Homo sapiens: one gene and its partners. The protein of the gene in region 2 purifies or fractionates together with the protein of the main gene of each other region. This does not show direct contact. Each region holds a gene or a part of one and is shown on either strand. Other genes may lie near its edges. The genes, in order: XPO5, TXNDC5 and VRK3.

Region 1 (3,650 bases), about 36 Mb from region 2:
AAATACTGAACACTGAGAATAAACTTGTAGAACTTTGTATGTTTCATTCAGAAAAGAATTGAAGACCATGGCAGAAAATAAGAACACAGTGTGGCCGGGTGCGGTGGCTCACGCCTGTAATCCCAGCACTTTGGGAGGCCGAGGCGGGTGGATTGCCTGAGCTCAGGAGTTTGAGACCAGCCTGGGAAAAACAGTAAAACCCTGTCTCTACTAAAATACAAAAAATTAGCCAAGTGTGGTGGTGGGCACCTGTAGTCCCAGCTACTTGGGAGGCTGAGGCAGGAGAATTGCTTGAACCCAGGAGGCAGAGGTTGCAGTGAGCCAAGATCGTGCCACTGCACTCCAGCCTCGGTGACAGGGTGAGACTCCGTCTCAAAAAAAAACACAGAACACCAGTGTGTGCTATGTGCTAGGCAAATTCCTTAAGAAAATAAGGGGACCCTTGAATGTGCACCATTCTCTGATGTTACAAATTGAGATTAACAATCTGTCAACTGCAAGAGCTCTTAGCAGGGAATTCATGAGCAACTCTCTACTGAGGTAGTGAGCAATCTTTGCTTCCACTCTCACTCCCCTCATTTCCCTTTGTAACTCTCACTTGGCCTCCAGAAGCAATGCTTAGATATTGCCTCCTCTTGGAATCTTCCTGACTCAACCCTCCTATGTACTTCCAAAGCATTCTGCTTTTAACCCCTGAATAGCAATTATTACATTGTATGGTCACTGCTCTTGCCCTAGCACCTAGCCCAATACTTATGATATATTAAGTACTCTCATATGGAAGAGCAGTTATAATAACCAGTAAGGACTGATTTCTTCCTAAGGAATAAGAAAATATGTCCAGTAAAGGAATCTTAGTGATGAAGAAGGGCTGTTAATAATGCCAATCAGTCTTTTTTATGTTTCCCCCGAGACAGGGTCTCACTCTCATTGCCTAGGCTGGAGTGCAGTGCTGCGATCTCAGCTCAATGCAGCTTCAACTTCCCAAGCTCAGGTGATCCTCCCACCTTAAGCCTCCCCAGTAGCTGGGTCTACAGGTGCATACCAACATGCCCTGCTAATTTTTTTGTATTTTTAGTAGAGACGAGGTTTTGCCATGTCGCACAGGCTGGTCTCCAACTCCTGGGCTCAAGCGATCCTCCCGCCTCAGCCTTCCATAGAGCTGGGATTATAGGCGTGAGCCACCGCACCCAGCCTCAAAGTCTTATTATGTGTATTCACCTACATTCCACATGTTTAGATTCCCATTATATACCTTGACCAAGTTAGTCATGGAAGCACGAAGATATTTTGGTATTATTGCTAATAGCAAAGGATCACGGGACAGGATTTCATGCCTGAAGAGGGCTCCCCAAGTCATCTGAGTTGAAGAGCGTAGAAACTAAAGAGAAAAAAAAAAGAAAACGTCAAAGGATTTGGATTCTATATAACCCAGATTATTACTTAGCAGTTATCAACTACATTTTTTCATAGAAATAAATCTGTACAATACTTTGAAGCTGTCTCTACTGCAATTTATCAGTAATGACCACCCACTATGGACCACATGTTAGTAAGACAGGCTGTGGATCAAGGAAATTACCTGGAATGTGAGCTGAATTTTACTACTTTCTCTTCTTTGCAAAAAAGGATACTGGAATCTCAGAGTGATATTAGAAGGACAATTTTGAACAGAGTGAAATTAATTTTATAATACAATTAATCAGACTTTTGTTTCAAAAATCTTTATAACTTTAGTACTAAACCACCTGGGACACACCTCACATGTGACTGAGTACAATCAGAATATTACCTAAAGGGAAAAGCTGCTGACCTAGACAAGTGCACTGTTTGGCTCAGGAAGAAGAGCCAATAATTCTCTTAATGAAATGACACTACGGTCATTCCCCAAGGCCTGAAGAGTCACATTTTATACATGATCTACAATAATATTTCAGGACACAGTGCTTGACATTGGTTCACCTAACTAAACTTTTGAGAAGTTACCTGTATAAAGTTTACCTGACTTGGATGGGTTGTGAAAGCAAGAAAAGATTCCAGGTATTTTCCAAAGTTTGATGGTGTTTCTACATCAGAATCTGCACCCTGTAGGAGAAGACCACTATATTAACGGTGTTGATCGAGAAAAGCAGGAGAGGAAAAAGCAGGGAAGTAATAAAAACAGATAAATTAAACCCTCAAAAAATGTTGTTTCAAAAGGACTTTGTATTTCCTTTTGGCTAAAGAAAGGCATCACTTCAAGGGCTAAAATATAGGTTACTTTGCCTACTCAATCATCATCATTACTTTGCCTACTCAATCATCATCATTAAAACCCATTCTGTGGTCAAACAGTAAAATAAAAAACACTCATTTCAGAAATTACAGAAAGAAAAAAAATCTGTATTACTTCCTCAGACCTTACCTATTCACATCTCTGTGTCCCAACCTATTACCTAATCCCTTCAATAGTTTCTTTTCTTTTTTTTTTCTTTTAGATGGAGTCTCACTCTGTTGCTCAGGCTGGAGAGCAGTGGCACGATCTCGGCTCACTGCAACCTCTACCTCCAGGGTTCAAGCAATTCTCCTGCCTCAGCCTCTCGAGTAGCTGGGATAACAGGCATGCACCACCACGCCTGGCTAATTTTTGTATTTTTAGTAGAGACAGGGTTTCACCATGTTGGCCAGGCTAGTCTCAAACTCTTGACCTCAGGTGATCTGCCCACCTCACCCTCCCAAAATGCTGGGATTACAGGCATGAGCCATTGCACCTGGCCCCCTCAATGGTTGCTTATCTCTGAAACTATCCTCTCTAACCATTTAAACCACCACAAAAAGATATAACATCAATTGCAAATGTCTGTTCCAATGTCCTATCTTCCAACTTATAAGACTGAGTATTAAATATTTCTCTAATGGCAGGTTTTCCAGGTCAATCAGACTCAAGTTTTCTTTTGTGCTCCAATAATACATCCCTTAGATTGGGAAAAGAGTTCTTTATTCAAGTCCATGTTTCGTGGGCTAACAGAATGTAAAAGCATAAAGCACTCAGCAGATTGAGGTTCTGTAAGTACCAAAATTCACAAGAAACCAACGTTGACTTTATGGAATAATAGACGTGGATATCTGACGTTGGTATAACTATTTTATTGTTAAAAGAAATTTAGATCACTCAAACACTATTCTATTAAGATAATTTAATCTATAGAATCATGCAATAACTTGTATGGCACTGCCCCATCAGGCTAAAATCAATGACATTTGCAACCCCTCATTGAAACATAAGTTTCTAAATGCTCTTCCCAAATGGGCTTGAAGCTCTCCAGAAAGCAAACACTAGCTCACCAGCAATGCACACAGCTGATTGCCCAGCGCACACAACACCTGACAGAGCCTCTTCAGAAAGACGTAGTGTTTTTCTACCAAACCTCCTCCATCAGCAGTCCTGTAAGATGAGAATTCCTTATATCACCAACAAAATTAAAAAGGCTGTAATAAAAACATCACTTTGTGTCTCATTTCTCCAAGTCATTTAGTTAGGTCTGTAATTCAGCAGAATTCCAATAGCTTTGCTAAATTAAAAATTTTTTAAAATCTTTTTAACTTATTTGGTGGCAAAACCTGACCTAAAATGATATAGGACTATTCACACAAACAGCAATTAATAACTA
Region 2 (3,650 bases):
TCTTAGAAACAACAGAATCTATTTCGCCTAGCTCTAGAGACTGGGAAGTCTGAGATCAAGGTGCCAGCAGAGTCAGTGTCTGGTGAGGGCTTTCTGGTTCACAGATGGTGTCTTCTTGCTGTGCCCTCACATGGCAAAAGGGGAAACAGAACTCTCTGGGGCCTCTTTCATAAGGTATGCAACCCTATTCATGAGAGCTCCACCCTAATAACCTGCTCCCTCTCAAAGGCCCCACCTCCTATTGCCAGCATTGGGGATTAGGATTTCCCCTATGAATGCTGGGGTACACACACATTCAGTCCAAAAAAAAATGGCTAATTCTCCTTAAAATGAAGTCACATGGCTAGATTAGGCTTTGAAATTAGTATCAGCATACTGGCCTTACCCAGAACCTAAGATGGTATGATGGGGCATAGGTAGGGTCCCTAATGTGTCTCCAGTGCAGAATATACACCCAGCTTCCTCAGCAGCTCAGACTCTCATAACCACAAAAAACAGCCAAAACTTAACTAGATTTGGCCAGTACACCGGCTACGTCACGAAGTTCAACATGATAAGCAACTGCAACATCTGCGGTATCAAAGATGATTGCCCTCACCTAGCCTGGCACCTCCCCAGGCTCCCACAAGGTGTGTTCCGCACCTGGAAACAGAAACTGCTTCCTGCACGGCTCTGCCTCCCGCTAACGCTCTTCAGGAAGGGAAATGGGTGGATCCTCAAGACATCAGAAAGGACCAGGGACGGTCACACTTGTGTCTTTGCTAAAAGTAAAATACAGTAAGACCTAGCCTATGATTTTTTTGTAATTTGCTATTCATTTGCAAAACAAATAATTTAAAAAAAACCATCTTCTTGTTGTTGGACTGATAATCGTTCTAACCTGCCCAGGAAGTCTGAGATTCTTCCTCGGTAAGTTCACAGAGCCCAGGGACAGAGCGGACACTTCTGGTCCAGACCTTGCAGTGAGTTTGGGACATCTGACTTCAATTCTCACTGTCGACAGGGGTGAGGGAGGTGATGGAGACTGGGCCACAGGGTACAAGCCCAAACAAAGTATTGCCCCAGATTTCCGCTATTACCAAGCCTCCACATGGGCATTTGAGTCTCCTTTTTCAAGGAGACTGCAGGGAGAAAATCCCCATGTAGGTACTGCCTTGGCAAACAGCATGATGAAAGTTCTACTACCGTAGACAGTGTTATCAGTTGAACTGTGTCCTGCAAGACAGATCTGTGTAAGTCATAACCATCAATCTCAGAAGGTGACCTTATTTAGAATAAGGTCTTTACAGAGATATTCAAGTTAAAATGAGGTCACTAGGATGGGCCCCAATCTAGCATGACTGGTGTCCTTGTAAGAAGGGTTTGGACACAGAGAGACACACACACACAGAGAGAGAAGGGCATGTGAGGACAGAGGACGGCAGTGATGCATCTACAAGCCAAGGAACGCCAAAGATGACCAGGAAACCAACAGGAGCCAGGACGAGGCAAGGGAGGATTCCCCTACAGGTTTCAGAGGGAGCATGACCCTGCTGGCTCCTTGATTTAGGACCTCTGGCCTCCAGGACTGCAGAGAATACATTTCTATTGTTTCTGGCCACCCGGTTTGTGGAACTTTGTTACAGCAGCCTAGGAAACTAACACAGGTAGTTCCCCCCGTCAGTCCTGCCCTGCTGTAATGATTCATGACTGGCCCAACAGGAAGACCTCAAAACATTTTCCTGAGCACAGCCAGCCATCTCTAGGGAGCGTGGGAGCCCAAACTCCCTGCCCCTCCAATCCTTTACTCCAGTTACACTTGCCAGGAAAGAATAACGTGAAAGCTCATGTCCTGACACATGCCTGGACTCAGGCAGGTACAGTCGTCACCTGCCTCGGGCCTCACAACCACTCTATGGGATGGGCACTTGTCTTAGAGGAGTCAAAGCTCGCTCAAGTCAATCTACAGATGCCCCAGTGCGACCACATTGCACACAGCACATTCCACCTCCTGCATTCTCGGGGGGAAAATAATCTGTTCTTGGAGCTTCTGCAGGGCAGTGATGGTCACAGAGGTTCCTTCCCAAACTGTGTTCAGTGTGGTGTACGTTCATTTTTGTTCTTTTTAATAACACAAAACCAGCCATGGTTTACTTGGGGAGACCAGCTCTTCTCATTAAAAATCTAAACACATGATCCAACATGGGCCTTTTTAAATTTGTGACTTTTTACATTTGTGACTTTTTAAATTTGTGATGGTTTTTGGTGAATACCAACTATGGAGTAGCTGATATTGCAGCTGACAGCTGTTATGGCCAGGCTGAGGTGGAAGCCTTCACTTCCTTCTCTGAAGCCCCATAACACATACCACTCTCAGCTCCATTACAGGTCCTGTGTCACCTTCCCTGTGGCATGGTGTGTGATGCACATAGTCTCAGGCCACAGATGGTCAGCAGGTTAAGAGGAAAGACACCACAGCCAGCTCACCCCTGCTGCCCCTGAACTTTGAAAGCAACAGTTTCTCAACAGGTAAGCATTCACCTCCTCGCCCTCATCTCTGCTCACTACCTGCTTCTTTGGGATGCTCTTGATCCATACTTTCAATGCAATACTATAAAGCATAGAATAGTTAATGCTTTTACGTAGATACAGATAGTAAGCAATTTTATCTCCATTGATCTGATTTAAAGTAAACCCAAATTATGGCACTTACATTAGCAAGCAGTCACCAAAGACCAAGAATTCCAGGGTCCTTTGTGGAAACGCCCACATTTCCAAATGGTAGGGAAAACCCTAACATGTATTGGGTGTGCTCAGATTGGTGTCTGCACACATTCCATGTAAGTCCTGTAACAATGTTTGGGGGATCACCTTACTTACAGGTTAAGTGATGAGGTCAGAGCTGGGTGGTAAGTAAATGGTAGAGCTGGGATTTGACTACGACTTCTAGGTTCAAGCCTGGAGATCCCTCCACTTTTCTGCCTCCCAGGTTTGAATATAAGCTCCAATTTTTTGCTTTATTGATGGACCCCTATATTATTCAATTAAGCAATAAATTGTATAGAATTGACTTCATTCCTCAATTGAAACAAACAGCAAGGAAGTGACCGTGGCAATCCCTCCACCTCCTTCAGAAACAGCTTCTTCTCTTTTTTGAAGAACTGCTTTTCCCTCCAACACTTGGCACATGGTGTGAATGGGCATGTGTCTTGCTATAAGCTCCTGTTTCCCTGGCCACAGTGACTATTCCTGGAACGAACATTCCAGCCAAGCAGGGCCAGTCAGTGGTGGGCCCTTCTGTGCAAACAGAGATACAGGCCTGGAAAGCCGTCATCTCAAGGGAGGTGCAGGAGAAACAGACCCCAGGCCCCTGGAGCTGGCTCTCAGAGGTTCCTCCACAGCCTTTTAAATAGTCCTTTCTTTCTGTTTAATAAGAGAACAATTCTATTTCTAGAATTGAGAACATTTCAATTTCTATTTCTTATAACCAAAAAAATTCTTAACTGTCAAGGAAGTAAGTATCATCGTCTGTCAGACTCTATACTTTCTTTCCAACAGGAACAGCCCTGTGGGAGTCACACGGGAAGGAACTATAGGAAGGGTGTTTGCGAATAAGTCACCAGCAAAAGCAAGCCAAAACTGATGACAGTCCATGCACACTGTGTAAAATG
Region 3 (3,650 bases), on a different chromosome or scaffold from region 2:
GTGCAACTGTTTGATTCACTATTGGCCCCTCCCACTAGACTGTGAGCTCTAAGACACAGAAACCATGTTTATGCTGCTCCCTGCTCTGCACCCAGCCCCGGGGACAGCGTCTGGCACCCAGCAAGTGCCTGATGAATATTTAATGGGGATGAATGAATGAACTAATGAACAAATGCCATATGCTCTCCCTTCCACACAAGCCTTGCCCCAGCTGTATCCTTGGCCGGACCATCCTCTCCTCATCTATCCTCTTCCTCTTCCACCCAGCACTTTGCTATTTCCACTCATCCTGAGAGTCTTGGCTTAGAAACACCCTCCACCAGGAAGCCTAATCTAAGCCTTCAGTTTGAGGCCGGGGCTCCTTCCTCCAATGCTCATGGCCCCCCAAGGGCCCTCCACAGGACTGACCACCCATCATCTCGGCTCTAACCGCCTGCCATGGCAGTCAGTGAGCCAGCCCCCAGTGTGCAGCGGAGGGGGGTGGGGGCCGGAAGTGTCAATGACTAAAGTGCCTGCTAAACTAGGATGTGATGTGCCCTCCCTGACGCGGCAGCTGAGCAACTTCTGGGTACGCACCAGCCGGCAGGCCACCTGCAGCACAGACCTCTCTGACAGCACATGCTTTGGGCTGACATCCAGGGCCGACTGAAGGCTCCTCCCCAGGCTGGGTAACACCAAGAACCTGGAAGACACAAGCACCCCAGGAGGTGGGAGATGAACAGGGGAGAGAGGAGTACCGGCCGCCAAGGATGGACTGTTGCGTGGGCTGCAAGGTCCTGGTCCCAGGTGAGATCAAAGGTTCTGACTGGCTGGGCAGCAAACTAGGTCAAAACTACGAGAAGGCAGGAAGCAAAGACCTGGCCCACGGCTTCGGGGTCCCAGCCATGCCTGGAGTCACAACAGGAAGAAGAGGAAAGAGGCCGGTGAGGCAAGCAGTGAGCAGAGCAGCTCACCTGTATTTGTCCTGGTGAACACCGAAACCCATGCAGGTAGGGATGGCCAGCAGTGGGGTCGAGTACAGCTTCTTCCACTTGTTGACTGCGGAAAGCAGGGGCTTGAGGTTAGAACCCACCCAGTCCCAAGCCCATGGCAGTAAGAGCTAGTTCTCAGAGAAGAAGCACAGAGTGCCCAGACCGCCTCCAAGTCTCCTTGTTGGAGGTGACAACATTGTGGGTGGGTGATGGTGGGAAGGGGCTGGTGACAGGGCAGGCATGGGTGACCATGAATGTCTGTGATCCAGGTCTGCAGGTGATGGGGTGATCATGGTGGCTCTGGAGGAAGCATATACAAGTCTGGAGTGCAGAGATGGGATAATGACAGGGTTACTTCCGAATTCACACATAGAGCTAACAAGATCAACACGTGTCTAACCTAGCCATGGCATCACCGGAATGTGCCTCTGCCTGTCTTCCAGATCTCAGTGGGGTGGACCAGAACCAATGGCGAGCTGATGCTAGTTTAACAGCTGGCTATCCAGGGAAGGCAGTCCTGATGGGTAGCATTTGCTAATTTCTTTTTTCTTTTTTTTTGAGACGAAGTTTTGCTCTGTCGCCCTGGATGGAATACAATGGCGCGATCTTGGCTCACTGCAACCTCCGCTTCCTGATTTTAAGCAATTCTCCTGCCTCAGCCTTCCATGTAGCTGGGATTGCAGGCTTCTGCCACCAGGCCCAGCTAATTTTTTTTTATTTTTTATTTTTTTTGAGATGGAGTCTTCGTCTGTCACCAGGCTGGAGAGCAGTGGCGTGATCTCGGCTCACTGCAACCTCCACCTCCCAGGTTCAAGTGATTCTCCTGCCTCAGCCTCCCGAGTAGCTGGGATCACAGGCACGTGCCACCACATCCAACTAATTTTTGTATTTTTAGTAGAGATGGAGTTTCACCATGTTGGCCAGGATGGTCTCAATCTCCTGACCTCATGATCCGCCCGCCTCGGCCTCCCAAAGTGCTGAGATTACAGGCATCAGCCACCACGCCCGGCCTTTTTTTTTTGTATTTTCAATAGAGATGGGTTTTGCCATGTTGGCCAGGCTGGTCTCGAACTCCTGACCTCAGGTGATCCACCGGCCTCCGCCTCCAAAAGTGTGGGAATTACAGGCATGAGCCACCGCGCCCGACTGCATTTGCTAATTTCTGCAGTGTAAATAAATACTCCTGCTATGGCCAACTCCAAGCTACCAACATGACATGACTGGAGGTGGGGTGGGAGAGATATACAGGGGAGGCCATCATGCAGCATTCTCACCACACAGAGACAATAGTGCACACAACCTCACTGGCAGAGATCACAGGACATGTAGGAAATAATTAGGAAGTGATGAATTTCTGAGGGTTCATTACCTTTGTTTTGAATATAATTTATTTGTAAAATTATGTAACTTATTTTATATATTTTTTGAGACTAAGTCTCACTCTATCGCCCAGACTGGAGTGCAGTGGCATGATCTCGGCTCACTGCAACCTCCACCTTCCAGGTTCGAGTGATTCTCCCACCTCAGCCTCCCATGTAGCTGAGATTACAGGCACACGCCACCACGCCTGGCTAATTTTTGTATTTTTAGTAGAGATGGGGTTTCACCATGTTGGCCAGGCTACTCTTGAACTCCTGACCTCAGGTGATCTACCCACCTCAGCCTGCCAAAGTGCTAAGACTACAGGCATGAGCCACCACGCCTGGCCTATATAATTTAATTGCTAGTACTGGCTGTCTGTAACAACCAGCTTGCCATCTTCCTAAAAATTTATTTTTATTTTTATTTTTTTTGGAGACAGGGTCTGGCTCTGTTGCTCAGGCTGGAGTGCAGTGGCACAATCACAGCTCACTGCAATCTCTGTCTCCCGGGCTCAAGCAATTCTCTCAGCTCAGCCTCTTGAGTAGCTGGGATCACAGGTGCATGCCATTACACCCGGCTAATTTTTGTATTTTCAGTAGAGATAAGGTTTTGCCACATTGCCCAGGATGGTCTCAAACTCCTGGCCTCAAGTGATCTGCCCACCTCAGCCTCCCAAAGTGCTGGGAGTATAGGCGTCAACCCACGCCCAGCCTGAAAATTTAATACTTGGCTTCCAAGAGCTGGTGTGAGCCAGTCACAACACACACTGAGGCCTGAGGGGTCACAGGAGTCAGGTTATGGACACAGATGGGAGCAAACCTGGGCCTTTAATCTAAGCCCACCCTTCTCATGCCTGCAGGTAGAAGTCAAGTGCTGTGACCAAGTTGGCGCCCCCCTCACTCTCCCCTCCTTGCCCAGTTCCCTGTCAGGTACCTTGCAGAGGCTTGGCGGCCCGCTGGAAGAAGTTCTGCTCATTGAACAAGCGCCCATCCTTGGCATCCTGGTGGGGGACAGGAGGGGCAGAAGGCTGTCACACTGAAGTCTCAGATAAGGGCCCCCAGTCCCCACTGGCAATTTGTTACTCCCTCAATGACCAGGCTCCTCATCAAGTCCCCACATCGGAGCCAAATTCCTCAGGTACTGCACACAAACACACATCAGAGACTGCGAGCTACCTTGCTGTACCCAGGTTCCTTTTCTTTCTCTTATGGTAAGAGCCACAGTGTTCCCTAGAATGTAGCCTTCAGCATAAAAACTACGTTTCCCAGCTTCCTTTGCAGTGAGGACTGACCACATGACCAAGTTCTGGCCAATGAG

Evidence for each region.
Region 1: the proteins of TXNDC5 (region 2) and XPO5 fractionate together in Homo sapiens (co-fractionation; one large-scale study listed by BioGRID). This does not show direct contact.
Region 3: the proteins of TXNDC5 (region 2) and VRK3 purify together in Homo sapiens (affinity purification with mass spectrometry; 2 studies listed by BioGRID and IntAct, with this or other methods). This does not show direct contact.

Annotation. Positions count from the first base shown.
Region 1 is NC_000006.12:43,558,923-43,562,572, forward strand, and holds part of XPO5 (exportin-5), read right to left. Parts: intron 3,486-3,650; exon of another isoform or gene 3,425-3,485; coding exon 3,325-3,424; exon of another isoform or gene 2,478-3,324; intron 2,086-2,477; coding exon 2,002-2,085; intron 1,382-2,001; coding exon 1,256-1,381; intron 1-1,255. UniProt on the Homo sapiens protein: Mediates the nuclear export of proteins bearing a double-stranded RNA binding domain (dsRBD) and double-stranded RNAs (cargos). XPO5 in the nucleus binds cooperatively to the RNA and to the GTPase Ran in its active GTP-bound form.
Region 2 is NC_000006.12:7,900,653-7,904,302, forward strand, and holds part of TXNDC5 (thioredoxin domain-containing protein 5 isoform 1 precursor), read right to left. Parts: intron 1-3,650. UniProt on the Homo sapiens protein: Protein disulfide isomerase of the endoplasmic reticulum lumen involved in the formation of disulfide bonds in proteins. Can reduce insulin disulfide bonds.
Region 3 is NC_000019.10:49,994,238-49,997,887, forward strand, and holds part of VRK3 (serine/threonine-protein kinase VRK3), read right to left. Parts: intron 3,334-3,650; coding exon 3,267-3,333; intron 1,039-3,266; coding exon 954-1,038; intron 683-953; coding exon 577-682; intron 1-576. UniProt on the Homo sapiens protein: Plays a role in the regulation of the cell cycle by phosphorylating the nuclear envelope protein barrier-to-autointegration factor/BAF that is required for disassembly and reassembly, respectively, of the nuclear envelope during mitosis.